Homo sapiens: one gene and its partners. The protein of the gene in region 4 purifies or fractionates together with the protein of the main gene of each other region. This does not show direct contact. Each region holds a gene or a part of one and is shown on either strand. Other genes may lie near its edges.

Region 1 (5,422 bases), about 37 Mb from region 4:
AGATTATTTTAAGTCTCATGGCATTACTGATCCAGCTGAAGACTGTTCTGGTAACTTCCTTGATTGCTGCAGCCAGGGTGTGCGTACTGCTTTGATGATAGAGGTGTCCAATCTGGCCCCAGAGAGTTCCTCAATTTCTAGCCTATTTTAGAGAAATCCTGCCTTTCCTACTTTAAGTTCCTGGTGTATATCTTTATATTGAATGTATAGCTTAAGCCATTTAAAAAAAACTATAAAAGTGATATATTTTATGGCAAAGTTTAAAAACTCAGAAAAATGTCAAGGAAAAGGTCAAAGTCCTCCTTACTCCCTGGAACACCCCAGCCCCTTTCCCAGTCCTGTTTTCCATAGGTAGCTGCTGTCGGCAATTCCTTGTTTATAGAAAATGCCAGTAGGTATGCAGGGATAAACATATACTTTATATCCCTTATTTGTGATTTTAAAGTCTTGTTAAAATAGGGTTATATTGTAACAGACATTGAAAGGATGCTTATTAACTTGTGTTAAACATTGAGTAAATCATATTTCTCATGTTTTCATCATTTGAATAAAAGCACACAATAGAATTCCCTACGCTAATTCTCAAGTGTGTGTATGTGCAAATTTGTTTGTGTACAGATTTTCTTGATTAATGATTGAAGATGAAGTTTACTTTTTGTTTTCTAGCATATGGCATATAGTTGACAATGAGAAATGGTGTCTTTTAAAAAAGGAGGTTTATAATTTGGTGTGGGAAATAGCCACATCTTGCTCTTTACAAAAAAAGTTTGCCAACTCCTTAGAAAAAACATCCTGTTGAAAGGATATTTTAGATACAGTATTGAAGAAACAGGTACTTCATTGTTTATTTTCTCTAAGATTATAGAATTTATAAAGCTATTAGTAATTGAGATAATGGACTGTTTTCTTCTGAGTTGTAGATAATCTCTATGGCTTTCAGGACCTTAAATGTTTTTTTTTTTTAATTTATTTGTGAAAAGTTTAAGTCAACTAGGACTGACTGCAGGTAAATTTGTGAAGTGAGCGCTCTTCAGTTTTGAGCCCTTAGATCCTTTAAGATGCATTGGCATCAAATAGCAGAAAATTCTCCAACTGGTTTAAACAATGAGGAAATTTAATGTCATTTTTTTCTTCATTTTTTTTTGAAAACAGAGTCTTCCTCTGTCACCCAAGCTGGAGTGCAGTGGCACTATTACAGCTCACTGCAGCCTTGACCTCCTGGGCTCAAGTGATCCTTTAAGTTCCTCCCACATCAGTCTCCCTAGTAGCTGCCAACACAGGCGTGTGCCACCATGCCTAGCTAATTTTTTTTTTTTTTTTCCAAGACAGGGTCTCGCTCTGTTGCCCAGGCTGGAATGCAGTGGCATGATCTCAGCTCACTACAGCCTCTGCCTCCAGGGTTCAAGCGATTCTCCTGCCTCAGCTTCCCTAGTAGCTGGGATTTAAGGCACATGCCACCAGGCCCGGCTAATTTTTGTATTTTTAGTAGAGACAGGGTGTTACCATGTTGGCCAGGCTGGTCTCAAACTCCTGACCTCAAGTGATCTGCCCGCCTTGGCCTCCCAGTGTGCTGGGATTACAGGTGTGAACCACTGTGCCTGGCCAACAACTAATTTTTTAAAAAGCCTTTTTGTAGATACGGGGTATCCCTATGTTGCCCAGGCTGGTCTCAAATGATCATCCTGCCTCAGACTTCCTGCCTTGGACTTTCTGCCTCGGCCTCCTGAAGTGCTGGGAGGATTACAGGTGTGAGCCACCATGCCTGGCCAAAATTTAATGTCTTGCATACTAAAAGTCCAGAGGCTCAAGAATGGTTCAATAATGACATCAAGGACTCCTTCTCTTTCCAACTCTCTTCCCTGTGATTTTCCCTATTAACTTCATACTAAGACAGCCCTTACCCATCTCAATTTGGCTGCTGCAAAGGAGCCAGGAGCGGTGGTGTGGACCTGTAGTCCCAGCTACTCAGAATGCTGAGGTTGGGGTATCACTTGAGCCTGGGAGGTCAAGCCTGCAGTTAGCCCCTTGTCCCAGTTTGGCTGCTGCATCCCATCCAGACAGGGCAGTATCCAAAGGAATAAGAGGAACTGTTTCCAGAAACCCCCAAGCAGATGTCTTTCGAGCCTCATTGGCCAGGATTGGGGCACATTCTATACCTAACCAGTCAACTGGCAAGGGTAATGGAATTGCCCTTTCTTCCAACTCTGTTCCCAATAGATACTTCTTTTTTCTTTTTCCTTCCTCCCTCCGTCCCTCCCTTTTTCCCTGTCTCCCTCCTTCTCTCTGTCACTGTCACCTCTCTGCTGCTGGAGTACAGTGGCATGATCATAGCTCCATGCCACGAACTCCAGGGCTTTGAACTCCGGGGCTCAGGCAGTCCTCCCACCTCAGCCTCTGGAGTAGCTAAGACTACATGTGCACACCACCATGCTTGGCTGATTTTAATTTTTTTTAGAGATACAGTTTCACTATGTTGCCCAGGCTAGTCTCAAACTTCTGGCCTCAAGTGATCCTCCTGCCTCAGCCTCCTAAAGTGCAGGCAACTGCACCCAGCCCTGTTATTTTCATTATTCATCTATATTACATGTCTTCGGTCCTTTTTTTACCCCCACCCAAAGTCATATCCAAAATTGATCCATTACAGATAGTCATATGTAGTGAGCTCATATCTTTGTAGGTACCAACTTCAGTTAAATTATGAAAGGAAAAGTGTTGATTCTTGTTAAAATACTTGGCAAATTGTGGTCCATGGGCTAAACCCAGCCTACTGCCTGTTTTTATAAAGTTTTATTTGAACACATCGTAGCTGACTTGTTTACATATTATCTATGGCTGCTTTCCTGCTACAACAGTAGAATGGTTTCAACAGAGACTGTGTGGCTTACAAAGCTTATAATGTTTACTTACCTGGCCCTTTACGGAAAAAGTTTGCCGACCACTGCTTTAAGATGTCAGTCGTACATTTGGACAGTTATTATATGCCACATACTCTTTGCATTTGAGAATGGAAAGATGAGTAAAATACTCAGGAGTTCTCACTCTAATGGGCAGATAGATGTGCCATATTGTATTCATAAAGTGTGTTAAGTGCTTTTTTTTTTTTCTTTTTGAGACTGTCTCTGTTGCCCAGGCCAGAGTGCGGTGGCTTGATTATAGCTCACTGTGACCTTGACCTCCCAGGCTGAAGTGATCCCTCCACCTCAGTCTCCCAAGTAGCTGGAACTATAGGAGCTTGCCACCACTCCCGGCTTTTTTATTTTTTGTAGACACGGGGTCTCACCATGTTGCCCAGGCTGTCCTGGGTTCAAGTGATCCTCCCGCCTCAGCCTCCCAAAGTGCTGGGATTACAGGCGTGAGCCACCACACCTGGCCTGTTAAGTGTCACAGTAGTGTGTATAAGTTAATTAATACTCCTTGCAGCAGCATTTTAAGCACAGTATTCTGTGCTGTGAGTTCTGGATGTTTCTTGCTTCCTCTGTTTTTTTTTCTTTGTTAAATCTTCCTGTTGTTTTTGTAAATTGACTGATAATCTTTTAATAAGTTAACCAGAGTGGGTATTTTTGTTTATAACAAAAAATCCTGGTGAGTACATGGAATAATGTGGATGCATTAATGCAACGTAAGGACCCTTGTTTTTTTTTTTTTTTTTTTTTTTTTTGAGACAGTCTCACTTTGTCACCCAGGCTGGAGTGCAGTGGCATGATCTCAGCTCATTGCAGCCTCTGCCTCCTGGATTCATGCAATTCACCTGCCTCAGCGTCCCGAGTAGTTGGGACTACAGATGCACACCACCAAACAGGTCACCACGTCTGACTAATTTTTATATTTTTAGTAGAGACGGGACTAATTTTTATATTTTTAGTAGAGACGGAGTTTCGCCGTGTTGGCTAGGCTGGTCTTGAACTCCTGACCTCAAGTGATTCACCCGCCTTGGCTTCCCAAAGTGCCGAGATTTCTGGTGTGAGCCACCGCCCCCAGTCAACATAAGGACTCTGAGTGAAAGGGAGAATGGGAACATAGAAAATCTCAGCTGTGGTTAATTGACTTTAGATCCCTTTGGCTTGGATTAAATTTTCTTAGCCATTGTGAGGACTCCTGATACTTAAGCTGTTTATAGGTTCTAGACTTAGAAAAACTATAAAAACTTAGTTTGGCTATTCAGCAAAGTTAGTATATATCACCAGAAAGCTTACTGCTAATATCTAATCAACAAGCAGCATGGTAATTACAGTTATCATTAAGTGTGTCAAATTATCTGGCCTTTAATTTGATTGTCAACTTAATTGAAATTATTAAAACAGTTTTGGATAGAGATGGTTAAGGCTTGAATTTGGGAGGCCTAGTTGTAAAAAGTTTTTTTTTTTTTTTTTTTTTTTGAGATAGAGTTTTGCTCTTGTTGCCGAGGCTGGAGTGCAATGGCGCGATCTTGGCTCACCACAACCTCGGCCTCCCAGGTTCAAGTGATTCTCCTGCCTCAGCTTCTCAAGTAGCTGGGATTACAGGCATGCGCCACCACGCTCGGCTAATTTTTTATTTTTGGTAGAGATGGGGGTTTCTCCATGTTGGTCAGGCTGGTCTCGAACTCCCAACCTCAGGTGATCCGCTCACCTGGGCCTCCCACAGTGCTGGGATTGCAGGTGTGAGCCACCACGCCCAGCTGTAAGGAGCTTTTTTTGTTCCCCATGTTCATGTTGGTTCTCTCTTCTTAGTGATGCTTATTAGTTTGGTCATTTTACAACATAAAAAAAGAGAGGAAACTATTGCCCTTGACACTAATCAACAGAAAAATTAAAACTAGTATTATGTGTAAGATTAATTCACCAACAAAATCAACAGACATTTTGAGGCCCAACTGTGAACCAGGCATTGTATCAGTTTTTCAAAAAAGGGAGTTAATATCTAGAAAATTAGAAGCTTAATTTTTTTATAGCAATAGAACTGCCATATAGCCTCGTTGACTGTGTTAGAGAATATTGTCTAATTATAAAGACATTTAAGAAACATACTGACTTTGTTCTGTTTTGAAAATAAGCTATAATATCTGATGTTTCAAAGCACATTAAGGGTAGAATTATTTGTGAGAATTATTTTGTGTTTGCTTCTTTCCTGTTATATAAGTGACTTGCATGAACCTGTTTTCCCATTTCTAAACATTTTTATGTGAATGTTTAATGTTTTCTTAAGAGTGAAATGAGGAAGTTGAACTGGATTTAGCTTTCTTACCTTTTAGTATTTAATAATTGCAAATGATAGTGTATTATTTTGTTTTCTGCTCACCTTAGGAACAATACAGGTATGATTTTCCTTTTTAAATTTACAAAACTCTTAGAAGAGATCCTAAACTCAGTGTAAAACTTTGGTGTTAATATTGCAGTTCAGCTTTATAAATTTTAGAAATTTGCTTTGCATTTTCAGTAACATG
Region 2 (4,992 bases), on a different chromosome or scaffold from region 4:
CCATCTGTCCAGCCTCCTTGATGCTTATTTCCTCTTCCTCCCCCTCGGCCACCATGGTCATAGCCACCACGTCCACCTCTCCCGCCTCCTTGTTCATGACCTCCTCGTCCTCCGTATGAGGAATGTTCATAGCCACCTCTCCCTCCTCCTCGGCCTCCTGTTTGCTGCTGGGGGCCATCTTGCCTCTTCTGCCACGGTGGCATCTCTGGGGGTGGAGGTTCGATTTCATTGGGTCTACCACCTCTGTCAGGCACCCTGCCCATCAACACCTACAGAATAGGAAAGATATTTTAAACTTTTATTTTATGAACAGAAATAAATGCATTTGGAAAAAATTAAAGGTACTCTAATCACCTTATTGATGGCACAGGCAGTCTTTTCTCTTATAGAGCCGCTGCTTGTCCTTAAAATCTTTGACAAGTCCTGCCTTGCAGCCAAAAGATGGGCAACAGAAATAGTAGTTTTAGGGGATAAGACTGAACGTTTCGGCTGGTAAACCTTGGCTAATTTTTCTGTCTGGCTCTGTTGAAAGAAAAGTGTTCAAAGAGAAATGTCAATTTTCAAAATGACATAAGAAACACATATTAAATAAGTTAAAGGTCTCCAAAATATCTGATAATGATATTTACTAGGCTCTAGATGGTAGGAAAAGTTATATACTCACTACTGCTCCTACATAGTCAAGAACTACCTTAAAAGTACAGCTGCCAGACTTGTTGACACAACAAGGAGTGACAGGGACTGTGGGGGCAGGGGTGGAGTGAGAGGGTGCCCCTTTAGGGTTATGAGGCCAACGTGATAAAAAGGTTCCCCCATCATTGGTCTCAGATCAAACATACTCATTTTCTCTATTTAAATATAAGAATATAAAGCTATTTCAACAATTTTGCTTTTTAATTTTCCTATCTTTGGTTTCTATGAGGTAATAACTATCTGCTGAATGACCAAGGTCTTTACCTGGATTGTCTCATTTAGCTGAAAAAAAACTTAAGTCTTACCAAATTCTCCAATTGTCTATAAATCATACCAAATCCAATATTTCTAACTTCTATTAGCAAATTAAATTATTTAAAGTAAACAAGTAATTTGAAATCAATTTATTATTTTAGTAATTTTCAGAATAACTCCATTTCTCTCATAATAAGAACTTCTCTCTCCAATAAGAACTGTAAAATTCAGATTTGTTAAAAAATAGAAAATTGAAAAATAAATGTTTTCATCATTGCTGAATAGTTGAAAGAGCCACTACTCAATAACTCACTAAGGAAAAATCCCTATGTGTGTCTTCTATGTACTTCTCCCATAGTTGCCAAGTAGCTAAATTGTTTAGATGTTCAGGGATCATGTCTATAAATAGTCTGCTCTTTTAAATTATTTAATGTGTACCTTAGCTCTGTCAGACCAGCCAAAGGATTGTACAGTGACATCCAAACGTTTTATTAGCAGCTTTCTCCGGACTTCATATTCATTGGCTATGGCTTGGTTAATTGCTTCTATCTTTTCCTGAAGCAAAATTAAAAAGACTAGTTAGAGTTTAAATCTGCTTGATTCTCTGTCCCAAAAGGGCAAAAACTACGTCTGTGTCATTCATAACTGAGATCCCGGCCATTTAACAGTCAAAAGTTCTTATTCCATATAATATACTAACAATTAATGAAATGATAGGTGACAAAAAGCTGATTCACAAAACATAATGAAGAGTATGTGAAGTACACAATTCTTATTTATCTTTCCCATAATTTACTGTGTGAAGCTCAGCCCAGTGAAGTTTTTGGCTTGAAGGCAATCCATTTGGCAACGAGAAACATGCACCATACTTAATTTCAGTTTACTTTTATCAGCTGTGTGAAATATTTACAAAGTATGAGAAAAGTGCTTCTAATCTTACACAAATAAAAATATTCTGCAGAAATCCTGAGATTCACAAAATGATTCTAAGGGTGTTCAACTAGAAAACTATGTATAAGAAAACATAATTTAAAAAGCACAAAATGTAAGTGTTGACATGAAAATCATAAACTCTATAGTTCTTTACAAAGTTTACTCAAGATGATTACTACTCACCCAGTGGGCTGGTCCCATTGGCTTCTTCAGTAAAGGCTTTCCCACATGATTAGGTGGAACTTTTGCTAATGTTTCCTTTAACTGACACAAAAACATAAATAAATGAATAAAAACTCTAAAAGTAAAACATCCTCATCTTCCCAATTCCCATCATATCTTGCCATCAAAAGAAGATTCCTGACAGAGGCAAAGGTGGAGGATGTTTTGAAATGCAAATGTAAAAGACCCACAAGATAAAGACACTCACTGGTCCCACTCCTCACGCCTACAGAAGTCCTTCATTGCACCTAGAACAGTGCCTGACAACAGTAGGCACTCAATGAACATTTGCTGAATGGATGAATGAACACACAGGAAAATATGGACTATGGATACACTGCTGCTCCCCTGTAGAGTTCAGCCAAATTTGTGCATCATGGTGCTGGTCTACCCCACAATGCAAATGTACCAATTCTTAAGAGTCCAGCAGATAAGCGTATAGGGAATAACTGTGCTTTAACAAATACCGTTCTCTTCTACTCATTTTTGTTAAAATTGCTTGTTCCTAATTAATTATATAGAAAATCTTAACTGATAATGTGTGGTATAAAAATAATTCTAATTTCTTTTCACATACTAGATTATGTTAGCAGTCAACAAATCTATTTTGTCAATTGAAGCATGAGGTTTGAAGTGACTGGATTAAAAAACAAAAATATTAATATCCTTTCTGTCCAGTCAATGGGGAGGAGGGTGGTAACATTTAGTGATAAAGAACTTAAATTGACTGTATCAAAGTTCAATGATAAAATAATTTTTAAAAGGACTGAAATCTTAATCCTTTTTACATTATATCTAGCTTACTTTAGCTTACAAACCAGTGTAAAGTTTCCTTTTTGAAAAAGAAACATGCTAACATGTTTTTAGGAAAATACTAAAATACTAATTTATCTTTAAGGCATCTAGGATTTAAAACCCAAAACTCATTTCGTAACAATTACTTAATAATATATGCACATTAGGTTCCCATTAAGAGAAATTAAATTAATTGCTTCATTTCAAACAAATGTAGGACTATGCCTTTAATACACTACAATTTGGTACTAAAGGTCTTACTTTTTTTTCAATCCCGCTGAAGAATTGGAACATAGTTATATTGGCTGGAGGTTTGGACATTCCTAGAGCAATACATATGCCTTTCAACTCTTGAAAGACCTCACTACCGCCTCCTTCTTGAGCTTTTTTTGGAGGAGCATTCACACAGAGCATTCTGGCAGCTTCTAGTTCTGAGATGAGGTATGCTGAAGTAAACAAAATAAGATTTCAAAATGAGATACAGCTATAGTTATAGTCATAAGTCTGGAGTCACAACTATATAGACCTATTGATATGTAACTGTTAAAGCTGCAAGAATGGATAAAAACAAGAAAGAAAAACTACTTTTACCTGCAAATGAAATAAGAAATAAACTGGTTATGTAATTCAGTTATTTAAGCGATATATAATGTTTAAATGTTAATTTTAAAATAAGCGATTCTCTTTGAAACCGAAGGATCGAGGTAAGTAACATCTAAAAATTTGGAATCTTGAATTCTGGTATTAAGGAACCTCCAGAACAGGGGTTGGCATCTGTTAAAAATTTTGCAAAAGAAGGCAGGTGACCAATTTTTAATGACAATTAATTTTTTTTTTTTAACTTCTCACTACTTGTGAGCATCAATGACACAACTACCTTGCTCTCTTGTCTCCCATTAATTAGGAGCCTGTCCAGAAGAGGTGTGAAACAACATTTATAAGAAGTCAAAGCTTAACTCACAGGAGAAGCAGGAAGGCACCCCAGAGCTCCTTTCCCATGGTCTCCAAATCTTATGTTGCCCTCTGGCTAATCAAAGAGAGCCCTCTTTCATCTATATTCTTCTCAGGACTCCCTTCCCCCTACTTTCCTCACCCCATTCCCTTCAAAACAACCATAAAACCTTCAAAGCACTTTTTGGCATGGTTCCCTTTGTGTCAGTATCATCCCCTTGTGTGCTGATTTCAGCCTGGTATAATGGGGGCTGCAATCTGTTTCAGGTAATTCAGTTGAAGGTATAAATATTCAATCTCATTCCTTTAACATTCCCAAGGACATTTCAATTTTTATAAAAGATGATTAAGAATCATTTGAATCTTAGGATTTCTGGTTATGTGACAAAGTGAGATTCTTCTGACAATATAACAAAACCAGTTTTGGGAAAAGATATTTTCAAGGCCCTCAGGTCCTATTAGAAGTAGAAAAAAGTCAACTTGTGTATCAAATTTCCTATACCCAAAATGTAATGCTAGAAGGACAGAGGCCATAATTTTGGCAAATCATTTCTGAAAGGCTGCCAACTCCTGTTCTAAAACAATAAATACAGCTAAGTTTCTGGAAAGGTCATTCTAAATGGATTTGACACTGTAAAATCTTAACATGTTCCATACAGCAAACTGTATTTATGAGTTAAAACGTCAAAACAGTAAAACCCCACTGTTAAGACAACAACCACTGTTTTTGTACATAAGGTTTCATTAGGACACTGCCACACTCACTCATTTATATATTGTCTATGGCTGCTTTCATGCTGTAACAGCAAAGGTATGTAGTTGTGACAGAGAACTTAGGGCCACAAAGCCAAAAATATTTACTATCTGGCCCTTTTAGAAAAAGTTTGCCAACTCTTGTTCTAGAAAATCATATACTATATGATTTAATATATTGGTTCTGTAAATTTGGGATAACATAGTTCAGGTATTCACAAAATTAGGTTACCAATATAATTATCATGAAAAAACTTTAATCGTAATCAGTATGTTCAAAGCACTGGGAAAGGCACTGAAGATAACATTTTTTAAAACATCAAAAAGATGACCTCTTCCGATAATCTAGTTAGGAATAAAGAGTATATGCAAAAATAAAAGATGAATAGT
Region 3 (5,422 bases), on a different chromosome or scaffold from region 4:
TGGTTAGATAAAGCAGTCTTTTGCTCTCTAGCCTATGTGGATTAAAAATAATCATCCAAAATGTCTTAGGAACCTCCTTAGTTAATAATCGTAAAATCTCGAAAAGAAATCTCAATACTTGAACCAGAGTAATTAGATGAGGAAATTTTTAAAAAGGATCAAGCAACTTGGCCAGCCACTCCCCCACTGGCTCCAAGAGCTCCATGTCCAAGTGCTGTGCTCAGTCTCTGAATGTACCACACCCCTCAGAGGGAAGTGAAAATATAACACAAGACTACTTAGAAAAGAATTGGTACCTACAGAGAAACACACAAAACACTGAAATCAAAGGACCTGGCGGCAAAGTCAACAACCCACCTCACCCCAGACTCACCTTCCCTGGTGTGGTAAGTGAACCACCAGAGGGAGGGAGGGTGCCAAAGGTTCTAAAACTTGCTCCATCAGCAAAGAATTTGGTAAAAGCAACAAAAAGTCTAACAATACCAATGATAAGTATTAAGCACCCACCAGGGGTCAGACTCTGGAGCTGGGGGAGACGTTTTATCACATGACTGGCACTAAAAGGCAGAAGGTGTCTAAACTATCTTTGGCTTCCCCTTTAGAACCCAGTGGAGTGACTGCAGACAGAGTAGATGCTGCGTAAGTCTCTAAACAAAGTATCCAAAGTTAAAAAATGAAGAATTGAAAGGATAAAAAGTTCAACCATTACAATACATAATGTAATTCTCAAGAAAAGGAAAACACTCTACTCCGTCTTGTCAAATGGAAAATCATTCAAGGATGACTACAAAATAGATCTGTACTTTGCCAAAGTCTTCAAATGACAAAGCTGGACTGAAGCACTCAGCACATGCTCTTACAGTGCGAGATGCCGGACCCACAGGGAGCAAGGTCTATCCATTTATTGAGCTGCCCAGCAAGCTCACAACTCATCCATCCAGCACTCACATATGAATGAGCACCCACTACATGCCCATCTTCCTAGCACCAAGAGTGTCACAATGAACATAGCCAAGTCCTAGCCCATGAAGCCACATTCTAGTGGAGAGACCCTAATGAAGAGACAAATACACTGATGTGTGGAGGCACAAATGTCAGACAGAAAAACAAAACAGAGCAGGGGAGAGAAAGGGACCTGAAGGCTTCTCTCAGCAGAAGACAGATGGAGGTGAAGATGCAGGTGTCAGACGTTTGGGGGTAAGTTCTCCAGGCAAAGGCCCAGGAAGTGTGTGTGACGAATATTCAAGGGACAACCCAGAGGACATGAGCAAGGACAAGAGCAGCTCACGCAGCAGGAGTGGCCTGGATGCCCACATCCGTGTAACACCTCAGGTGATAAAATCCTAGACAAGTGCAATGATTTCTAACAGTGATGAGCACTATTAAGAAAATAAAACTGGAGAGTGGACAAGAGTGACTAAGAGGCTATGTTACTTTAATGGCATAATTTATACAAGTTGGCTACAGGTATAAACAGTTGCTCTTCCAACTACTAAGAAATAATTTATCACTTACTACTCTGGTCTAATCAGCTTTAACAAAGAGTTTAACACTTAGAAGTTTAAGCTATCAAATCATCAATTTGAGTCTTAAAAAAAGAAAATCACCATTTAATCTATACTTGAGTCTTCTTCCATCAATAAGAGGCGTTCCTTCTACAACCTTAAAAGAAAAAAAATTTACAAATTTACTAAGCACATCACCATCATATATACATATATACACACACACATATATATATTCTAGTATCACTTAATTTTCAACACGCCCAAGAAGGAAGATATCTTGTAACATGGAAATTTAGTAATATGTTTCAAAAACCCTAGTGGCAAGCCCTTTAATGACGCAATTCCACCTTCAGGAATTTATCTTAAATACAAATTCAGTAATGACTTCCTAGTGTAGGACCAAGCAACTGCAACAGCCACGCTCCCTGCCACACTCCTGTGTACCACCACCTCAAGACTAAATGTGCTTAAATACCTTTATATCTAGTGGATCCCTAGCTCAAACATCTACCAATGGCTACCATACTCTTACAAAGTAACAGTATGATTCCATTGTCTTCCATTTGTGGGGTCCTTTTCAATTGGGCTCTACCCTGTTTATCCACTCTACTATGACCCAAGTGCTATTTGATGACGCATACTCATATGCTTACTTGCTCTGCTATATATTATATATATATTGCCCATCCAGTTATTTAACCATTTCATGTGATTCTTTTATCTGCAATAAGAGACTGTGAGAAACCAGGTGTGGTGACTCATGCCTGTAATCCCAGCACTTTGAGAGGTCAAGGTGGGAGGATCACTTGAGTCCAGGAGTTGGAGACCAGCCTGGGCAACATGGTGAAATCCCCTCTCTACAAAAATACAAAATACAAAAACTAGCCAAGCCTGGTGGCACGCGCCTGTGGTCCCAGCTACTCGGGAGGCTGAAGTGGGAAGATGACTTCAGCCCAGGAGGAGGTTGCAGATTGCACCACTGCACTCCAGCCTGGGCAACAGAGCAAGACCCTGTCTCAAGAAAAAAAAAAAAAAAGAGAGAGAGAGAGAGAGACTGTGAGCACGCATCATGCATCAGAACCATCTCCTCTCTTCATTCGGCATCACTCACAGCATTCAGCACAGAGATACCCACAGGCATGGTACCCAATAGAACTGGCTCAGTAAAAAGTCCACTTGCTCAATGCAGCCACGTTTTACCCCACAAAATAACTATTCAGAAATGTAGCAATTCATTTCAAACTGTAAAATATAAATATAGTATCATTTGCTCTGGGCTAAACTACTTTATCTTATCATTAGCTACAGATTTCATTAGCTAGCATTCCTCCTCTCCCAAGAGAAACGTAAAAGCTGTTTGAGATCACAGGATTAGTAAAATGCCACATGCTAATTTCAGATGATCCTTATCTATTAAAGGAGTCTAGTAAATGCTGTGTTAGGCTTTAATCTGTGAATATATAGATCCAAATATACAGTCAGCCCTCCGTATCGACGGGATCCACATCCATGGATTCAACCAACCAGATCCAAAATATTTCGGAAAAAATTGCATCTGAGCTGAATATGTACAGACTTCTTTTTCTTGTCCTTATTCCCTAATACAGTATGATAACTATTTACATGGCACTTACGTTGTATTAGGTATTATAAGCAACCTAAAGGCAACAAAGTATACAAGGAAGATGCACACAGGTTATATGCAAATACTATACTATTTCTTATCAGGGCCTTCAGCATCCTCAGATTTTGGTATGTACAGGAGGTCCTGGAACCACTCCCCAAGGATATCAAGGGATGACTGCATAATATTAATATATATTTTAATATATATGCTTTTAGTCACTTTAGTCTATGAGTATATACATATATGACTTTAAACACCAAAACTGCTTTCCTTGATACTCTGAAATCACCTTACCCTAAATGAATCTGAATTTAACTGTAGAGGCTTACTGTAGAAATGACTGAAGGTCTTTATCACAAAAATCCTTGCTAGAGCCACTAAAGTTATGGTCTCACTCCACAGTATTAAGCCTGCAGCTCTACCCTCCTATCACTGGCATTCACCAGTAAAACCGATCCTTTGGTTTACAGACAGTTGGCAAACTTGCAAAGCCCTAAGAATAAGATCTTTAAATAAATTATTTATTACTTAGGGAATCTCATGTTTCTTTAAATATATCCAAGTAAAGGATTCTACTGAAAGAAGAAAAAACTACACTTAGCAATGGAGAGACAAATTTTAAAGATATTGCAGGAATCTGAAAACAACGTAAAATGTTCTTGACAACAAGCTTCTGAAAGAGATGAAAATTAGAAACTTTTCATACTTTTTTAAAGTAAAAGATGTAGACTAAAGTCCATCGAGCCCAGTAGCCTATCAATTAATCATTTAAAATGCTGCATCTGAAATGACACATACTAAGAGTGAATTTTTTTTCCATAGCAACCTCCACTGAGAGTCGGCTACTTTGCAAAATAGCCTATTCTTTTCTATTTGGTTTGAAAAGTTACACAAGAAATCTCAATCAGATTTTTTTTTAAGTTCCTCCTAATAAGCAAGTGTTATACAGACAGCACAAGAGAAATGGCTTCATGAACTAAGTTTTGGGAATTATGACCAACAACAGCCTTTAACCTTTAAACTACTCTAAGGCTGGGCAGCATGGCACAGGCCTGTGGTCCCAGCGACTCAGGAGGCTGCGGCAAGAGGATCACTTGATCCCAGAAATTGGAGACCCGCCTGGACAATATAGTGAGACCTCATCTTATTAAAACAAAACAGAATTACCATAAACGTACCTTTCCAATTGGCAGTAGGTAGAACAGGACTTGAATCAAAAACCACAGGAGGTAGACCCCAAATACTCTGGTTTCCCATAACTCATACAAAGCTGGCAAAGGAGGAGGGAAATTCAGAAGACTGGGATCTTTCTGTTTACACATCAACAGCAACAGGAAGAGGAACACAGGCAGGCCAAACATGATGAGAAACACACCTGCAAACAATTCATGAACATTCGAGGCTCAAATTTCAATCTGGTTTATTTATTTAAGAATCATGTTAGATTTGTTAAGATCAGAACTCGTTATCTGGCTAACTGTCTGAAACCAATTTCTAATGTACCATCAAAAACTCCCATCTCTACCTGTCACCTCTGGTGGCCTGGCAACCATGGGCATCAAAGTAGTAAAAAAAATAAATAAATAAAAATAAAAAAAAAAAGAAAGAGGTCCAACATTGAATAGCTACACCCACCTCAGAAACCAAGCTCTAAAACATTTGACCTCCAACCACTAAGGAGCGAATGTGTTGAAACTCCAGCAAACTGAAGATCAGAACATCTAAAAATTATCAGCCTAATCTTAACAAAAAACTTTATATTCCTCAGTTTCTAACAATTAAAATAGTGTCACGTTCATGTAATGTGTGCAGATTTTAAGTGATGCTGGACAGCATCTGTAACAGGCCAGCTAGCCAAAGGTTATAACAAAATACAAAGCAATTAAGCCATGCAGGATTTTGAGCCATTTAGACAAGAAGTCTTTTCTTTTACTAGCTCATAAAATTTCATCAGTTCCACCCACTTAGTAACTCCAAAACTCTGCACACTTCAGATCTTTGACCCTCACAATCAACCCGCCTAGCAGGTAGGGCAGCCTCCGGGATCCCATTTTATGCAGGCAGCTGAGGCCCACTGCTGGCCCCTGCCGCCTCAGGTCTGACTATTAGCAGAGCTCTCTGTCCCTGATAAGTAACCATCTATGCTATACAAACTCCCAGATCAACCTTCCTTTATCACTTCTTTGTACTTCTGTGCTCAAAACCTCTGAACAGACTGCTAAAAGTTTTAAACACAGCTACAATGGCATCCTTTCTACTCCATAATCCCTCAAAATGCTCCCACCTC
Region 4 (5,422 bases):
GGTTAGAGTCCCAGGGTGGTCCCCAGGGCAGGAATAGGTTTCTTTTCCTCATGTCATTTCCTCAAATCACCCCCACCCCAGGTGACCAGGTCACTGCATAAATAAGTGCTTGGGAAGGTACACATCTAAAAAGAAACATAAATACTGTACATGGGGAATTCCCCAGCCTTCCTGCTGCCCTCCAGAAAACCCTCCAAATATTGCACATGGCCCTCCCCAGCCCCGTGGGGTCCAGACCCAGCTGTGTCTTTGGTAGAAGCTCCAGGGTCAGAGGTCCTGGTCAGCCCACATGTCCCCCACCCGATCATGACTGGAAGCACCGGGGCAGCCAGAGGGTCGGGAGAAGCCATGGCCTGGCTGGCCAGTGGGTGTTCCATCAGGAATGCTTCCGCGAAGACAAGGCAGAGCCCACGCAGGCACATGTGTGCCCCTGGCTGGATACTCCTGGTCAAAGTCTGCGTGTGGGCTAGGGAGAGGCAAGCAGGCTGAAGGCAGGTGGGCGGGCGAGTCCTGGGCCACGGCAGACAGGGTCACACCCTCCACAGGAGGAGGTGGTTTGTGCTGTCGTCTCGACCCACAGTCTCACTGCTGCTGCCGCCCCCACTGCTGAGTCGGAAGTCCTCATAGCCATCACCTCCACTGATAACCAGCATTTTAGGCCTGGCAGGGGCGGGGCCTCGGTGCCAAGGGGAGTCCCGGTGCTCCAGTGATGGCAGCTTCTCGGGGCCTGGGGGCAGAGGGGAGGATCTGTCAGCTTGGGGGCGAATGGAGGCTTCACTGTCCCATCGGGGCCTGAATTCCCACACCCCAGAAGATAGGAAGGAAGATGTGCACACTTCCTATGGGGGAATCCCACTTTCTGTTAGCTAGGAACTTATTTAGAAAGAAATGCCCACTTCTTGGCAGCCAGACTTCTTATGTCCCATCTGTAATCTCTAGTCAGGAGTCACATAATTTCCCAAGGTGACGCCACTTCTGATTTTTTTCTTTTTACAATGTAAGTGCCCTGTAAGATGCCACTTTCTATCTCTCTTGATTACTGCACGCAACGTCCTTGCATTAAATAAGCCTCCTACTTCCAACAGCCCTTTCCCAGGTAGCTTAAGTCTTCTGTGAACCCAGACAACTCCTGACCCGAGGCTTTATTGCTTCCTGATTTCCACAGCCACTTCCTCTTGGGAATATCATTTCTTGTCCTGCCAAAGCAAGACTTTTCTGGTTGTGGCCTCCTGATGTACCTCATTTCCTGCTGTTTCACTTTTTTTTTTGAGACGGAATTTTGCTCTTGTTGCCTGGGCTGGAGTGCAATGGCACATACTCTTGGCTCACTGCAACCTCCGCCTCCCTGGTTCAAGTGATTCTCCTGCTTCAGCCTCCCGAGTAGCTGGGATTACAGGCGCCCGCCACCACACCCAGCTAGTTTTTGTATTTTTAGTAGAGATGGGTTTTCACCATGTTGGCCAGGCTGGTCTCGAACTCCTGACCTCAGGTGATCCACCCCCTTCAACCTCTCAAAGTGCTGGGATTACAGGTGTCAGCCACCACGCCCGGCCATATTTTTATTTTTATTTTTTTGAGACAGGGTATCACTCTGTCACCCAGGCTGGGGTGCAGTGGTGCAATCTCTGCTGACTGCAGCCTCGACTTCCCTGGGCTCAAGTGAGTCTCCCACCTCAGCTCAGCCTCCTGAGCAGCTGGAACCACAGGTGTGTGCCACCACACATGGCTAATTTTTGTATTTTTTGTAGAGATGGTGTCTCACCATGTTGCCCAGGCTGGGTCCTGAACTCCTGGGCTCAAGCGATCCTCCCACCTCATCCTCCCAAACTGCTGGGATTACAGGTGTGAGCCACCGCGCCTGGCACCCGGCTGTTTCACTTTCTAATTATCAGTCCATTTTCTGTGCTAGTGCCATTCTATGTTGTTTTCTGTTGCTATTTCTATTTCCTGCTCTGTGCATCACTTCCTGATTCCACTTCCTGCCCTATATATCATTTCTAGTCCTGTGCTATTTCCTGGTGCATATAGGAAATATATACAACAGGACATATTTTCTATATACATATTCTATTTGTGACATATTCTACCTCTTAGGTTATAGTTCCCTCCCTGTCTCTCATGACATTTCTCTGGATAGAACTTTATATACACACAACACATGCAGGTGCGCACACACACACACACACACACAACTATCCTAGATTTCATTTGGACACTTCCGTGGTGTATTTCCTGTCACATATGCCACCTCCAGCTCTATGTGACACTTTTCCTCCCTCTTGAAAGCTCTTCTGGCAGGATAGTGGGGAGTCCTAAACCAAATGTCCATGATCCCTAGCTTGGGGTATGATGCACTGACCCACCTGTGTCTGGGGGAGGTGGTGGGGTTGGGCAGAGCAGGTTGAAGCCATCTGGCAGCTGGACTGCAGCCAAGAAGCGGACGTGGCCGGTGTGTCCCTGGCCGAGGCCTGTGGGACTGAGTGGTGCCCGTGGGCAGCTGACAGTACCGGGCGAAGTGGGCATGGTGAGGACGACACCAGCACTGGTGCCCACCCACAGCAGCTCCTCACACACCAGCAGCGCTGTGATTCGCAGACAGGCAGCCTTGTGCTGCCGGATGATGGCATCCGAGCCTGGGGTGGGAGACAGACCACAGCTGGGGCTGAATTCTGGCCCTGGCTCAGCCGCCTCTACGATCGGGCAGAAAGGCTCCAAGGAGGGTGCTGTGGTAGTTTGAGGTCAGTACCTGCCAGCATCCTGTGCACGGGAGGAGTGACGTCTACTTCTGCCAGCTGCTCAAAGGTGTCTGGATGGTAGAGACACACGTGGGCACTACCTTTCAATGTCACCCACACACCCAGGCTGGAGTCCACCATGCAAGCCACGCAGCGGCTTGAATCCTGACCCACGTAAAACATGTGCTGGGGAAGGCGGGGGAGAAGATGGGTCATTGGCAGGCCTGCCTCCCTTGGCCCACCCTAGCCTGGAGCTTCACCAGTGTCCATCCCTCACAACTCACACTAGCGTTGGTCCTTGGTCTGATTAACCTTTCGAAGCTTGGTTTCACCAGCACCTCCCAACTTAGTTCTCAGGAATTACAATGGAGGTGCTTTTTCCCCATTAAACTTGAGTGATTTAAGGATCAGAGAACTTCAATGCTTAAAGGGTTCTAAAATCAGTCACTGGCCTCCCCCTGGACAGGTGGGGAAGCTGAAGCCTAGAAGGGAAAGGTCACACAGCAAGTCAGTCACAGAGCTGGGGCCTGAACCCAGGGCTTTGGACTCCTGCCCAGCCAACAATGGAATAAGTGAGGGAAATTAAGGGAACCCGTTGCCCCTGGATACTTCTGACATGTGTGCAAGTGACATGTGCAGCAATAAATGCCAGAGTCTAATGCTAATGGATGTTGACATCAGAAAGGACTCTTGTCCTATCCCCAAAGGACCCTAAAACCTGAGTTGAGAGATAGGGTGGGCAGGAGGATGAATAAGATTCCTAATGTATATGGGACACTTACTGTATTCCTCATCAGCTACAGAAGAAATGAGGATCGAAGGAGGACAGGGACTGGCCAGCGTCACTCTGTGGTCAGAGGAAGGCCCTAGCCCTCTGCTGGATGCTGCTTATGCCCCTACCATGGTCTCCATCTCCCTGTCACACGGACCTAGCTCATCCCATGGCACCAATTCCATTCCCCCACCCCCTGCTACCTCCAGCTGCAGCGTGTCAGGGCTCAGGACAAGGACTCGGTTCTGGCAGCCACACCACAGCCGCCCACCCACAGATACCATCTTGGTGATGGGGCTCCCCTGGGTGCCCAAGGTCACTGATTTGAAGTTCTGGGGGTCCCAGAAATGGCCTGGAGTGGGGTAAAGAAAACAGGAAATTCACTCCAGTTCTAAATTTGAGCCTCGGTCTCCCCTGAAATGAGATGTTAACATTCCCCTTTTATAAGCAAAGAAACCAAGGCCCACAGAGGGCCTGGGAGTTGCCCAAAGCCACATCTCCAGGAGAGAGCCCCAACACCAGTAAGGGGACAGGGGCAGGGTGTGGGGGAGGGCAGATACTCACCTGCTTCCCTTTGGTAGACCACAAGCTCTCCATTGGCCAGAGACACAAACACCTGGTTATTCAGATACCTGGGTAGGGAAAAGAGGAAGCAGTAAGGGAGTTCAGGCAGCCAAAGTGGGTCACCCAGGACCAGGGGAACCACAGATAGAATGGGTATGGCTCCCGAGAGGCCACCTCTTCCCACCCCTTGTTCTCCAGGTGGGGGTTGCCTGAGGCTAAGAAAAGGGGGTGACTTGCCCGAGCTCACACAGTGTGTAAGAGGCACAGCTAGCCTAGGGCCAGGCCTCTGGCTTCCAGCCTCCACACAGAGGAGGGACAGTAGAGCAGGGGGACCAGATGAACAGAAGGAGGCCTGCACGTGTGGCTGAGAAGAGTCTAGATAGGAAGGGCCACCCTGGGGCCTTACAAGATGCAGGTCACAGAGGCCGCATGCTGGAGCTTCATGCTGTTCCTGCGGTCACGGATGCTGTCGGAGGACTGGTACACGTGGACACTGTGGATCGGGGTATGCACCTGGGACAAATGCTTGGGGCACACCAGCCCCTGGAGTCATCCCTCCACCTCTTTGCCCCTAGCACCACGTCTTCAATGCTGGGTGCCTGCCCAAGGTACTGAGGTCCCACAGCCTCCCTGGGATTGTCAGACCCACTGACATCCCTGGTCAGCAGTACCCCTGAGGTGTGACCCAAAGCCCTCCTGCCTTGGCTCCAGGGGACCACATGATTTCCAGAGCAGGGAGCTCAGAGTTCTGGCACTGTGTCCCTAGTCCCTCCCCTGTCCCTACCAGCCATCCTCAGTGCCCAGCCACACGGAGCTCTGGTAGGCCTCAGGGTCGACACTCAGCAGGTCCTCAAGGCTGCCCCGGGTGAAGGAGCCGTGGCTGGAGCGGCGAAGGGCTCTCCCATCCATTGGGCTGGTGCCGCAGGGACCACCAGGCCCAAAGGAGCCAGACAGTGGCAGGAAGCCTGGCTCCTGCTCCTCCTCTGAGCTGGTGGTCTCTGCCGTGGCCTCCTTGGAACTCGGGGTCTCCTCATCTGAGGGAGACAAAGGTCTCTGTCTCCATTTCCCTCTGCCAGGCCTGGGACCTGATATCTTTCTAGGCCATGCATCCCTCCTGGCCATGCCCCTCCGGAAGGCCTCTCAAAGCTGTTCTTCCCCGGCCTGCTCCGGTCTGCTGCCCTGCTGCCCTGCTCACCGACAGCTCAGCACTACAGAATCCTTGATCTTGCCTGGCCCCTCAGACCCAGTGGCCACACCGTGGGTCCCCACTCCACCAGCACCCCATCTTCCTTAGCTGAGTGCTCCAGGGTCTTCATGATCCCGCCTGACTGTCCCACTGTCCTCTGGATCC
Region 5 (5,422 bases), 910 kb from region 4:
TGGCTGAAGGACACTGTTGACCCAAAACTGGTGACCCTCAACCACCGCATTGCTGCCCTCACAGGCCTTGATGTCCGGCCTCCCTATGCAGAGTATCTGCAGGTGGTGAACTATGGCATCGGAGGACACTATGAGCCTCACTTTGACCATGCTACGGTAATGGTGGAGTCAATGACCAATCCCCTGGGGTAGGGAGCCAGGGCATTATTTATTTCTCTGAGGCAGAGCTCTTGTAGGCTCTCAGGGAATACTAAGTGAAATCTTAGAACAAAGGTTCTTTTTCCAGAAATATCTGAAAGCCTTAGTTTCAAGCATATTGTTGCTGACTCATTTTCTTGTCTGCCACCATCTCCCTTCTAAAATTTGCTGGTGAGGGAAGAATGTGGCTTGTCATGGAATCATCGGACTGCTCCACTCAGGGACTTCCTAGTGAGGATTGTCCTTCCTCCAGTAACTCTTCTAGCCTCATGATCTCAACTGGCCATCTTTGCTGATAATAGCAAATAATTTTTTTAAAATTTTAGATTCATGGGGTACATGTGCTTGTTTTTTATTTACGTATTTATTTATGTATTTATTTTTTTCTTTATAGGCAGCATCTTGCTCTGTTGCCCAGGCTGCAGTGTAGTGGCACCATCATAGCTCACTGCAGTCTTGAACTCCTGGGCTAAGTGATCCCCCCATCTCAGCCTCCCAAGTAGCTCTAGGACTACACCTGGCTAATTTAAAAAAATTTTTTTTGTAGAGACAAGGTCCTGCTATGTTGCCCAGGCTTGTCTTGAGCTCCTGGGCTCAAGCGATCCTCCCACCTCAGTCTCCCAAAGTGCTGACATTACAGGAGTGAGCCACTGCACCCAGCCATACTTGTTATATGGGTATTGCATGTGTAATGGTGGGGACCACACTTCTAGTGTACCCATCACCCAACTATTGAATGTTTTACCTGACACGTAATTTTTGAACTCTCACTCCCCTTTCACCCTCCCCCATTTTGCAGTTTCCAGTGTTTGTTACCTCCATCTTTATGTCCATGTGTACCCATTGTTTAGCCCCCACTTATAAGTGAGGACATGCAATATCTTATCTTCTGCTTTTGAGTTAGTTCACTTAGGATAATGGCCTCCAGCTCCATCCATGTTGCTGCAGAGGAAATTATTTCATTCTTTTTATGGCTGGATAGTATTCTGTTATGTATATATACCTTATTTTCTTTATCAAATCAACCATCGATGGACATTTAGGTTGGTTCCATGACTTTGCTGTTGTGAATAGTGCTGCAATAAATATCTGGGTGCAGGTGTTTTTTCTGTAATATAATACTTTATTTTCCTTTGGGTAGATACCCAGTAGTGATTTTTGAGGATTAAAATGACCTCCCCAAAATTGATCTATAAATTGAACCCCAGCTTTATAAAAATTCCAGGAGGTTTATTTTTGTAGAAATTAGCATGCTGATCCTAAAATGTATATGGAAATGCAAAAAACCTAGAGCAGCCAAAACAATTTTGAAAAAGAAGAACAAATTGGAGGACATACACTATCTGATCTCAAAACTTAATATAGAGCTACAGGAATCAAGGCAGTGTGGTACCAGTGTAAGGAGAGACACATATGTCAATGGAACAGAACAGAGTCCAGAAACAAACCAACACATTTATGATCAATTGGTTTTGACAAAGGTGCCAAGGAAATTCAATGAAGAAAATACAATCTTTTCAATAGACAGTATTGGAACAATTTAATATCTATCTGCAAAATAATAATGACTTTACACCCTTACCTTACACCATATATGAAAATTAACACAAAATGGGTCATAGATGTAAATGTAAAACTATAAAACTTCTAGAAGAAAACATAAGAGAAAATTTTTGTGACCACAGGTTAGGCAAAGATTTCTTAGATATGACACCAAAGTATGATCCATAAAAGAAGAAAACAACTGATAAATTGGACCTTATCAAATTAAAATTCTTTGCTTTTCAAAAAACATCATTAGAAAAGGAAAAGACAAGCCACCAACTAGGAGAAAATATTTGCAAATCATATATTTGGTAAAGAACTTGTATCCAAAATATCTATAGAACTTTTATAACTCAGTAATAAGATAATTCAATTTTTTTTAATGGACAGAAAGTTATTTGAGTAGGCACCTCTCCAAAAAGGATAAATGAATGGCTAAGAAACATATGGAAAGATGCTCAACATCATTAGGGAAATGCAAATTAAAACCACAATGAGATAGCACTGCACTCTCTTATGATGGCTACAATAAAATAAGATTATACCAAGTGGTGGTGAGGATGTGGAGGAACTGAAGCTCTCATACACTGCTAGTGGGAATGCAAAATTATACAGACACTTTGGAAAAAAGTTTGATGGTTTCTTAAAAAGTTTAAGATTCACCTACTTATGATCCAGCCATTTCACACCTATGTATATTACCCAAAAGAAAAAGAAAATATGTCTCTACAAACATTTGTACAGAAAAGTTTATAGTAGCTTTATTTGTAATAACCAAGAATTGGGGCTGGGCACGGTGGCTCATGCCTGTAATCCCAGCACTTTGGGAGGCCAAGGCAGGCGGATCACGAGGTCAGAAGATCGAGACCATCCTGGCTAACACAGTGAAACCCCGTCTCTACTAAAAATACAAAAAAAAAAAAAATTAGCTGGGCATGGTGGCAGGCGCCTGTAGTCCCAGCTACTTGGGAGGCTGAGGCAGGAGAATGGCATGAACCTGGGAGGCAGAGGTTGCAGTGAGCTGAGATCACGCCACTGCACTCCAGCCTGGGCAACAGAGTGAGACTCCATCTCAAAAACAAAAAAAAAAAAACAAAAAAAAAACCAAGAATTGGAAACAGCCCAGATGTCTGTCAACAGGTGAACGGATAAACAAATTTTGATATATCTGCACAATGGAATGCTATAGAGAGAAAGCAGATAAGTGGGTTGCCTGAGGTTGGAGGTGAGAGCAGGGATTGACTCCTAACTGGCATGAAGGAGCTTTTCAGCAGATGGAAGTGTTCTGTGTTCTAAACTTCAATTGTGGGAAAACTCATTGAACAGTAGGCTTACAAGGGGTGAATTTTATGGAATATAAATCATATCTCAAACTGTTCCATGACAAAAAAAAAAGAGTATGTCTCTTCAGCAAGTAATTGGAACTCTGGCCTTATGATTTGGTATTTCTACAGAATAATTGTCTGTAATATTTTATATATTAATTTCTATATTTCACAGAGAACTCAAAGGTGCAATTAACCCCTCATATAGTACTTTCACTACTGACAAGTAGTTCTGTTTGGTAGTAGACAATTCTTTTATATAAGTATCTAATAAATTAGTAAAAAAAAAAATTGTATTGAGTACCTGCCAGCAAAGACGGGCACATACTCCAGTAGGTGTATATCAGAACTATATCCCATCTTTGATGCCCCCATTTTACTTCTATTTGTATTAATAGTGGAATCCTGCCTGTCCCTCTGGTGCCATCTGCATAAAATAATATGTTCTGTTTTTTTTTTTCTCAGTCACCAAGCAGCCCCCTCTACAGAATGAAGTCAGGAAACCGAGTTGCAACATTTATGATCTATGTGAGTATTGCTCTGGGCTTCTTACTTCATGACTGACTATAGCTCTACTTTATTTTATTGTTTTCAAAGCAATTTCACGTATTGATTTTATCTGGTACTCAGCGCAAAAATCTCCAGGAATTTTGCGAATTTCAGACAGCATTTTTGATAGGCACTGTAGGAGATGTAAAGAAATACAAGACAAGGTTTCTACCCTGAAAGAGGCTGACAGTGTGTAAATCTAAATATGACCTTGGTATGGGCAGTGGATTAGGATGGGAAGTGGAGCTCCACTGAAGGCCAAGAGATAGAGGGACTTGAACAACACAGGAGGAGGATCTGAGAATCTGTGTCCTTGAGGTCTCATGGACTAATCAGTGTTGAAAAACAACCCATAGATGAGGTTGTGGGGCTGTGGGGAGGGAGATGGATGAGGAATGAGGCAGCAGATTTACAAGAGGGAAGAACAGAGACACTGAGAGAAATTCAGCAAGTGCTGCCTCTGATGTTTAGTGAAAATTCTCTTCCTTATCTCTCTATAAAATCTTCAGTAAAATCTCCATGACTCCCCTTTCAAGATAAACCAATAAATTGTACTTCTCTCCTAATTCCTGGCCTGATCAGGATTCGGCCCCAGTCTGTATCATCTCACCTGTCCCCTTCCCTTCAGATCATGTGGGTTTACTTTCGTCTCTATGGACAAGCTTCCAATCACCTGTCACTGGAAGAGAATATTAGAATTAATCACTTATTAGAAGAGATACCTTACTGTTAACTGAAGGGACAAACATATATAAGGGTTCTATATAACAACCAAAGATGAAGTCCTTGTTTCAGCCTCATTAGAATAGCAGACATCCCTCACCCCAGCTTTTCCTCTTCTATTAGGACTGTCTCTGGTCTCCACAGGACAGCCAAGAAAGGGCAGTCAGAGGCCAGCATTCTGTGTAGTCTTTAATGCCAGCAATTCCAGTGTGTTTCTCTATGTGGCTCAGTTCTGTACTTCCTATGGAACTGGAAGGCTTCCACTTACAATGGTGTCTGGCCTCATTCTGATCATTCTGAGGTCAGCTATCAGGCAGGGGACACATCTTGGAGCTGCAGTTGGTTGCATCTCTGGTTGACCACTCCAGCTGTTATGGGAGGTCACAAACGGCGAAAGAATGAACTGCTGCCAAAAAACAGGGCATCTAGGGCACAATATATCTCTGTTCTTTATCCCCTCAATATCTCCTATGGCTGGTTCCCTGGTTACAGGGCCCCAGTTACTATAGCGAAGGTAGCGTGGGTATAAGAGCCCAGTAATTTTAAATGGCAAATGCATGTGTGTGTGTGTGTGTGTGTGTATGTGTGTGCATGCACTCTCATGCACTTTCACATGTGTGTGCATGCATGTGCATTTGGGTTTTAAGTATTTGAGACAGAGTGGAATGGAATACACTTTGGATTTGGAGTCAGTTGACCTAATCCTGATTTTGCCACTTACTATGTGGCCTCAGCACAGATTACATCTATTATGTGAGCTCACTTTTTGCCCTGTGCTTCCTCACAGTGTTGTTGTGAGGGTCTGATGAGATAATGTAAGGAGGGATGTCACTCTGGAAAGTTCCATACTGTATGTTTCTGTCATTGTATCCCACAGAGCAATTAAAGGAAAGGGTATCATAAAGGGGAATCAGTATCATGGGACCAGGGAAGTGCTAGATTATGCCCAAGTCTTTCATCTTCAGGTTGGGATTTCTCGAGACAATTTCAAGACAAACATTTCTCAAGACAAATGTTAAGGTTTGTGGGAAACCTAAGACTGATTTTATAGGGAGAAAATAATCTTTAAGAAGTACAGAGGA
Region 6 (4,607 bases), on a different chromosome or scaffold from region 4:
TTAATTCTTAATCATTCATTTCCTCTTCACTCCCATATCTATATGCATAAACAATTACTGTTACCAATCTCTTAGGGCAAGGAAGTTCATGAGCTTATACTTAACCTCTCTCCCTATATATTTAGTTGAGTGCAGAGTTCCAAGTTTGAAGGTCAAGATGTTTTGAGAGGTTTAAGACCAAAGAGAAAGGGAAATAATGAAGATGGAAAATATTTTCAAAGCTGGGCCATGGTTGTACTAGAAGCTAAGGGGTTGCTGATTTTATTGTGTTTTGTATTGCCTTTCTCTTTTGATTATTATTATTATTTAGAGGTTGAATTTTCGTTTTTGAAAGTGTGGTAAAACGCAAACATGAAAAACGTCTTAAAATAGCAACATAGCTTAAATATATACAAATAGGAAATATCTTATAGCAAGGGCCTAAAATAAATATCCAGCCAGATACAATATGTTAAGACTGACATAGCATTTCTTTAAATAAATGAAAATTAAATAGTAGTGTTTCTTACTATTTCTTTTGTTGTTTTCATTAAATGTGTTGACTTTGAAAAAGAACCGTTAGTCTAAAAACACTGAAGGCACTGTTAGCAGGATTGAGATTCAAAAGGCTAAGTCAATTGTAAAGAACAAGAATTTTTTTTAATGCAGTACAAACTCAGGAATTTTAGCTTATGTAGTTTCAAAAATAAAACAAAAAGCACCTGTGTCATCAACGTAACTCTAATTCAGGGCAAGCACCTACAATTGCAAACTCTCTTTAGGGTCCTTTTATAGCACAGATAACCGATTTAGTGTCATTTTCTCTCTTCTTTTGGTTCTACTGGAGCCCAGATACAAGTAATATGAACTCTGTTGTCACCTATGACCTTTCTATGATGAAAAAAAGATTAGACTGTTATCTCTTGACTGTGAGACAATGTAAAGTTCGTCTGGAAAAGCCTTTCAGAGTGATACTCAATTGTCCTAAGGCTGATAATCAGACGTGTAAGGTAATTCTAAAAACAATGTACAGAAATTTATAGAAAAACATAAGGCAACCAAGTTTAGAAATAAATTACTTCCAAAGAGGCTGTGGGTGAAATATCACTAATGCCTACTATTATTTTCATCGCTACTGTTTAGTTTATATTCTATAAACAAATTTTTTCACTCAAATCTATTTTTTATTCAAGGAATGATAGCTGCATAACTTATGACTTTACTACAAACAAAACTTTCAACATATTGCTCTATACTCTCCTAAATTTAAAGTGTTTGCTTAAAACAGCTTTCTCTATAAATTGTATAGTTTTACTGAAGCAAGGAAGGTAACATTTGCCATTAAAACTGAATAAATAGAAAAAAATTCTCTAGTAGTCTATATTCTAAAACATTGGATATTTAAAAAATATTAAAACTTAATAAGGAGTTATTTTTTGCCAGTAAACAGAATTTATTAGTAAGCATAAGTCAGACCAGCATGGCCCAAGGAGACAGTACTGCCAAAACCTTCATGAGTGCAGAACCCGCCACTTGTCCAAGGGGCCATGACTGGGAACGTACTTGACTCCACAACCATCAGGGATGAGGCACTTCTTGGCCACCATGTCTTCAAATTCGTCAGCATTAAACTTCGTGAAGCCCCACTTCTTGGAGATATGAATCTTCTGGCGTCCAGGGAACTTGAACTTGGCCCTGCGCAAGGCTTCAATCACATGCTCCTCGTTCTGAAGCTTGGTGCGGATGGACATGATGACTTGACCAATGTGGACCCGGGCTACAGTACCCTGGGGTTTTCCAAAGGCACCTCGCATACCTGTCTGGAGCCTGTCAGCCCCAGCACAGGACAACATCTTGTTGATGCGGATGACATGGAAGGGATGGAGCCGCACTCGCATGTGAAAGCCATCTCTGCCACAACTTTTCACCATGTATTTGTTGGCACAAATACGGGCGGCCTCCAGGGCTTCAGAAGACAGCTGCTCATATTCATCAGACACCATGTGGCCACCGAGTGGGAACTCATCCACTTTTGCCTTCTTTCTACCCAGGTCAAAGATGCGGATCTTGGCATCAGGAACCCCTCGGCAGAAACGAGATTTTGGGTACGGCTTGTTCTTACAATACCGGTAACAGCGAGCTGGACGGCGCCCCATGGCGACACAGTAACGTCGGCGGTGCCTCGAAGTCAAAATGCGCTCTCTTAACTACGCCTGCGCGCATTTATATACGTTGCCCCTCGTCCCTCGCGGGAACCATAGAGTCCTGAGGCCGGAACCATAGAGTCCTGAGGAGGATGTGACGACTCTCTTTCAGGACGTCCCAACCAGAGACGCAGGGACGTCTGGCGCCTCAGCGCCTGCGCCAAGTGGCGCGCTTAAGGTGAGCAGAGTCAGCTGTGGGTAGACTCCCCCTGGCGGCCAGGGAAGGAATTGGGCCCCGCCCCAACTGCACAGCTGCTGCTTCCTTTCTGCTAGCCATCTTGGGCTAGGAACTCTTGCTTTCAGCTTTGCTTTAAGTATAAAAGAGGTTATTTCCAGGCAGGAGAATCTCTTGAGCTCAGGAGTTCGAGGCCAGCCTGGGCAATATAGTGAAATGCTGTCTCTACAAAAAAAAAAATATATATATATCAAATAGCTGGGCATGGTGGCACATGCTTGTAGTCCCAGCTACTCAGGAGGCTGAGGTGGGAGGATCGCCTGGGCCCTGCAGGCAGAAACTGCAGTGAGCTGAGATAGCACCACTGCACTCCAGCTTGAGTGACAGAGGGAGACCCTGTCTAAAGAAAAAGAAAAAAAGAAATCCTAGAATTTGAGAGGAAAAATCCTTCCAGTTATTCAACATGCTGTTTCCAGTTTGGTCAGTTCATTTTCCAGAGCTTGTATCTCACTGTCAGCATTTGTAGATCAATTGCTGTTTCTTGGGTTATGTGGCCACCTTCCCTGGATAAAGTGGTTTCTTGGCATGAGTGCTTTGATGAGACTCAGGAAGAGATGAGAGGAAGAGAAGAGAGAGGGATAAAGAGAAGATATCTGTTGTATCTGTAGCTTGGCAATTGTTTTATAAACATGAAACTTTGTTTTTTCTTTATTTGGCCTAAAGAAATGATTTTATTATCAAAATGATATATACAAAATTGAAACACCAACTAGATTTTTTTTAACTTAAGGCTATTTGCATTTTCAAATGTTAAAGCTGCTGAAACTATATAAAAGAGTAACAGTTTGTGTTTTAGTAATCTTTTGCCCCTGAGAATAAATTTAAACTTTTTTTCTTCTCAGAGTTTGTAAAAATATTATGACAGGGATCAGAGTGTAGGAAAGGAGGAAGAAGAGAGAGGAAAAGAAATTAATAGTTTACAAACCCTACTTGCATTTTTCTAGTTTTCTTTTTTGTTTTAATGTTGTTTCACAAATCCATTACATCATGGAACAAAATCCCCCCAATGTGAATATATTCTGTCAATACTCTTTGTTTTAAGGGAGAAAAATAACTCCTGCCCTTAAAGTGAGTGGATTTTTACAAAATACTAAAGATAAAACAATTAAATCTCCCAATGTAGAAAACTTTCTGACCTTTAAGAAAGCTTTCTCACTTCCCTTTTCTTCCTTCATTTCTTCTTTCCCCTTTTTCTCAACTAGTTCCTGTTTAACATATTGAGATAAAGTAGCTAATACCATGTTGCTCTCACCAAGCTTACAAGCCTAGGAGAGGATATAGATACTTCTCATATATCATCATATTACCAAGTGTAAAATGTGCCAAAAAGGAAAAGCAAAGTAAGCCCTGAGACTGTGGGATGAGGCTGGGGATGAGACCTTGATCCAGACTGAGGAATAGACAGGAAAATCTTTATCAGAAAAGAAATTTCATGTAGTGACCATGGCACATGGGGTCTGATGTATAAAAGGCCTGAAGCAGGCAGAAATATGGAACATTTTAAGGAACTTAAAGTCAGGCCAATGTGACTGTGAGTGAGAAAATGAGTCACATAACATGAGCCCAGAGTGTGTGTATGTGTGAGAGAGAAGGGGTCATGCTTTCATACAGGGCCCATTTTACCAAGTTAGGGATCCTGATCTTTAATGTGAGGCCATTAAAGAGCTTTACTTAGGTTTCATCACTCTGGTTATGGTATGGTGAATAGACTGAAACCAGCCCAAAAAAGGTATGCAAGGAGATCAGAAAGGAAGACTTCGCAATACTGCAGAAAACACACTATAACTTGAACATACTTTAAAATATTTGACTTTATATACAAGTTAGTATCTTTTTTATACTACTACATGCTCTGAATCTATGATCGCGCCTCAGGGAGAGGTGTTTGTGAGGCAAAAGGAAGACGCCCAGAGTTTATGTGCCACGACACACTCACTTCCACTTGTCTGATCTCCCACCTGTCTAATGTTGCCAAAATGCTAGAATTATCTGACCAGCAGATGCTGTTTTGCTGTGGGGGCCTGTCTACATAAGTTTCTTTCTTTAATCCAAAGCTTGAGCAATCCTGGTTTGTCCGGGTCTGTACCAGTTTTAACATTCAAGTCCTAGGTCCTGCAAAACCCCTTAATACCACGCGAAGTGGGAGGGTTGGCCACCCTACTCCACTCATGCATGAGGCCCTTCACAGT

The links.
Region 1: the proteins of ARHGEF17 (region 4) and RDX purify together in Homo sapiens (co-immunoprecipitation; one large-scale study listed by IntAct). This does not show direct contact.
Region 2: the proteins of ARHGEF17 (region 4) and FAM98A purify together in Homo sapiens (co-immunoprecipitation; one large-scale study listed by IntAct). This does not show direct contact.
Region 3: the proteins of ARHGEF17 (region 4) and LBR purify together in Homo sapiens (affinity purification with mass spectrometry, with the first as the bait; one large-scale study listed by BioGRID). This does not show direct contact.
Region 5: the proteins of ARHGEF17 (region 4) and P4HA3 purify together in Homo sapiens (co-immunoprecipitation; one large-scale study listed by IntAct). This does not show direct contact.
Region 6: the proteins of ARHGEF17 (region 4) and RPL10L purify together in Homo sapiens (affinity purification with mass spectrometry, with the first as the bait; one large-scale study listed by BioGRID). This does not show direct contact.

What each region holds. Positions count from the first base shown.
Region 1 is NC_000011.10:110,288,193-110,293,614, reverse strand, and holds part of RDX (radixin), read left to right. Parts: intron 1-5,422. UniProt on the Homo sapiens protein: Probably plays a crucial role in the binding of the barbed end of actin filaments to the plasma membrane.
Region 2 is NC_000002.12:33,585,176-33,590,167, forward strand, and holds part of FAM98A (protein FAM98A), read right to left. Parts: intron 3,345-4,992; coding exon 3,160-3,344; intron 2,146-3,159; coding exon 2,065-2,145; intron 1,504-2,064; coding exon 1,387-1,503; intron 523-1,386; coding exon 355-522; intron 270-354; coding exon 1-269. UniProt on the Homo sapiens protein: Positively stimulates PRMT1-induced protein arginine methylation. Involved in skeletal homeostasis. Positively regulates lysosome peripheral distribution and ruffled border formation in osteoclasts.
Region 3 is NC_000001.11:225,413,671-225,419,092, forward strand, and holds part of LBR (delta(14)-sterol reductase LBR), read right to left. Parts: intron 4,511-5,422; coding exon 4,314-4,510; intron 1,663-4,313; coding exon 1,608-1,662; intron 1-1,607. UniProt on the Homo sapiens protein: Catalyzes the reduction of the C14-unsaturated bond of lanosterol, as part of the metabolic pathway leading to cholesterol biosynthesis.
Region 4 is NC_000011.10:73,362,889-73,368,310, reverse strand, and holds part of ARHGEF17 (rho guanine nucleotide exchange factor 17), read right to left. Parts: intron 5,106-5,422; coding exon 4,856-5,105; intron 4,565-4,855; coding exon 4,478-4,564; intron 4,140-4,477; coding exon 4,072-4,139; intron 3,860-4,071; coding exon 3,711-3,859; intron 2,922-3,710; coding exon 2,747-2,921; intron 2,634-2,746; coding exon 2,364-2,633; intron 728-2,363; coding exon 531-727; 3' UTR 1-530. UniProt on the Homo sapiens protein: Acts as a guanine nucleotide exchange factor (GEF) for RhoA GTPases.
Region 5 is NC_000011.10:74,271,719-74,277,140, reverse strand, and holds part of P4HA3 (prolyl 4-hydroxylase subunit alpha-3 isoform 1 precursor), read left to right. Parts: coding exon 1-156; intron 157-3,533; coding exon 3,534-3,596; intron 3,597-5,422. UniProt on the Homo sapiens protein: Catalyzes the post-translational formation of 4-hydroxyproline in -Xaa-Pro-Gly- sequences in collagens and other proteins.
Region 6 is NC_000014.9:46,649,602-46,654,208, forward strand, and holds RPL10L (ribosomal protein uL16-like), read right to left. Parts: upstream 2,181-4,607; 5' UTR 2,136-2,180; coding exon 1,491-2,135; 3' UTR 1,409-1,490; downstream 1-1,408. UniProt on the Homo sapiens protein: Testis-specific component of the ribosome, which is required for the transition from prophase to metaphase in male meiosis I. Compensates for the inactivated X-linked RPL10 paralog during spermatogenesis.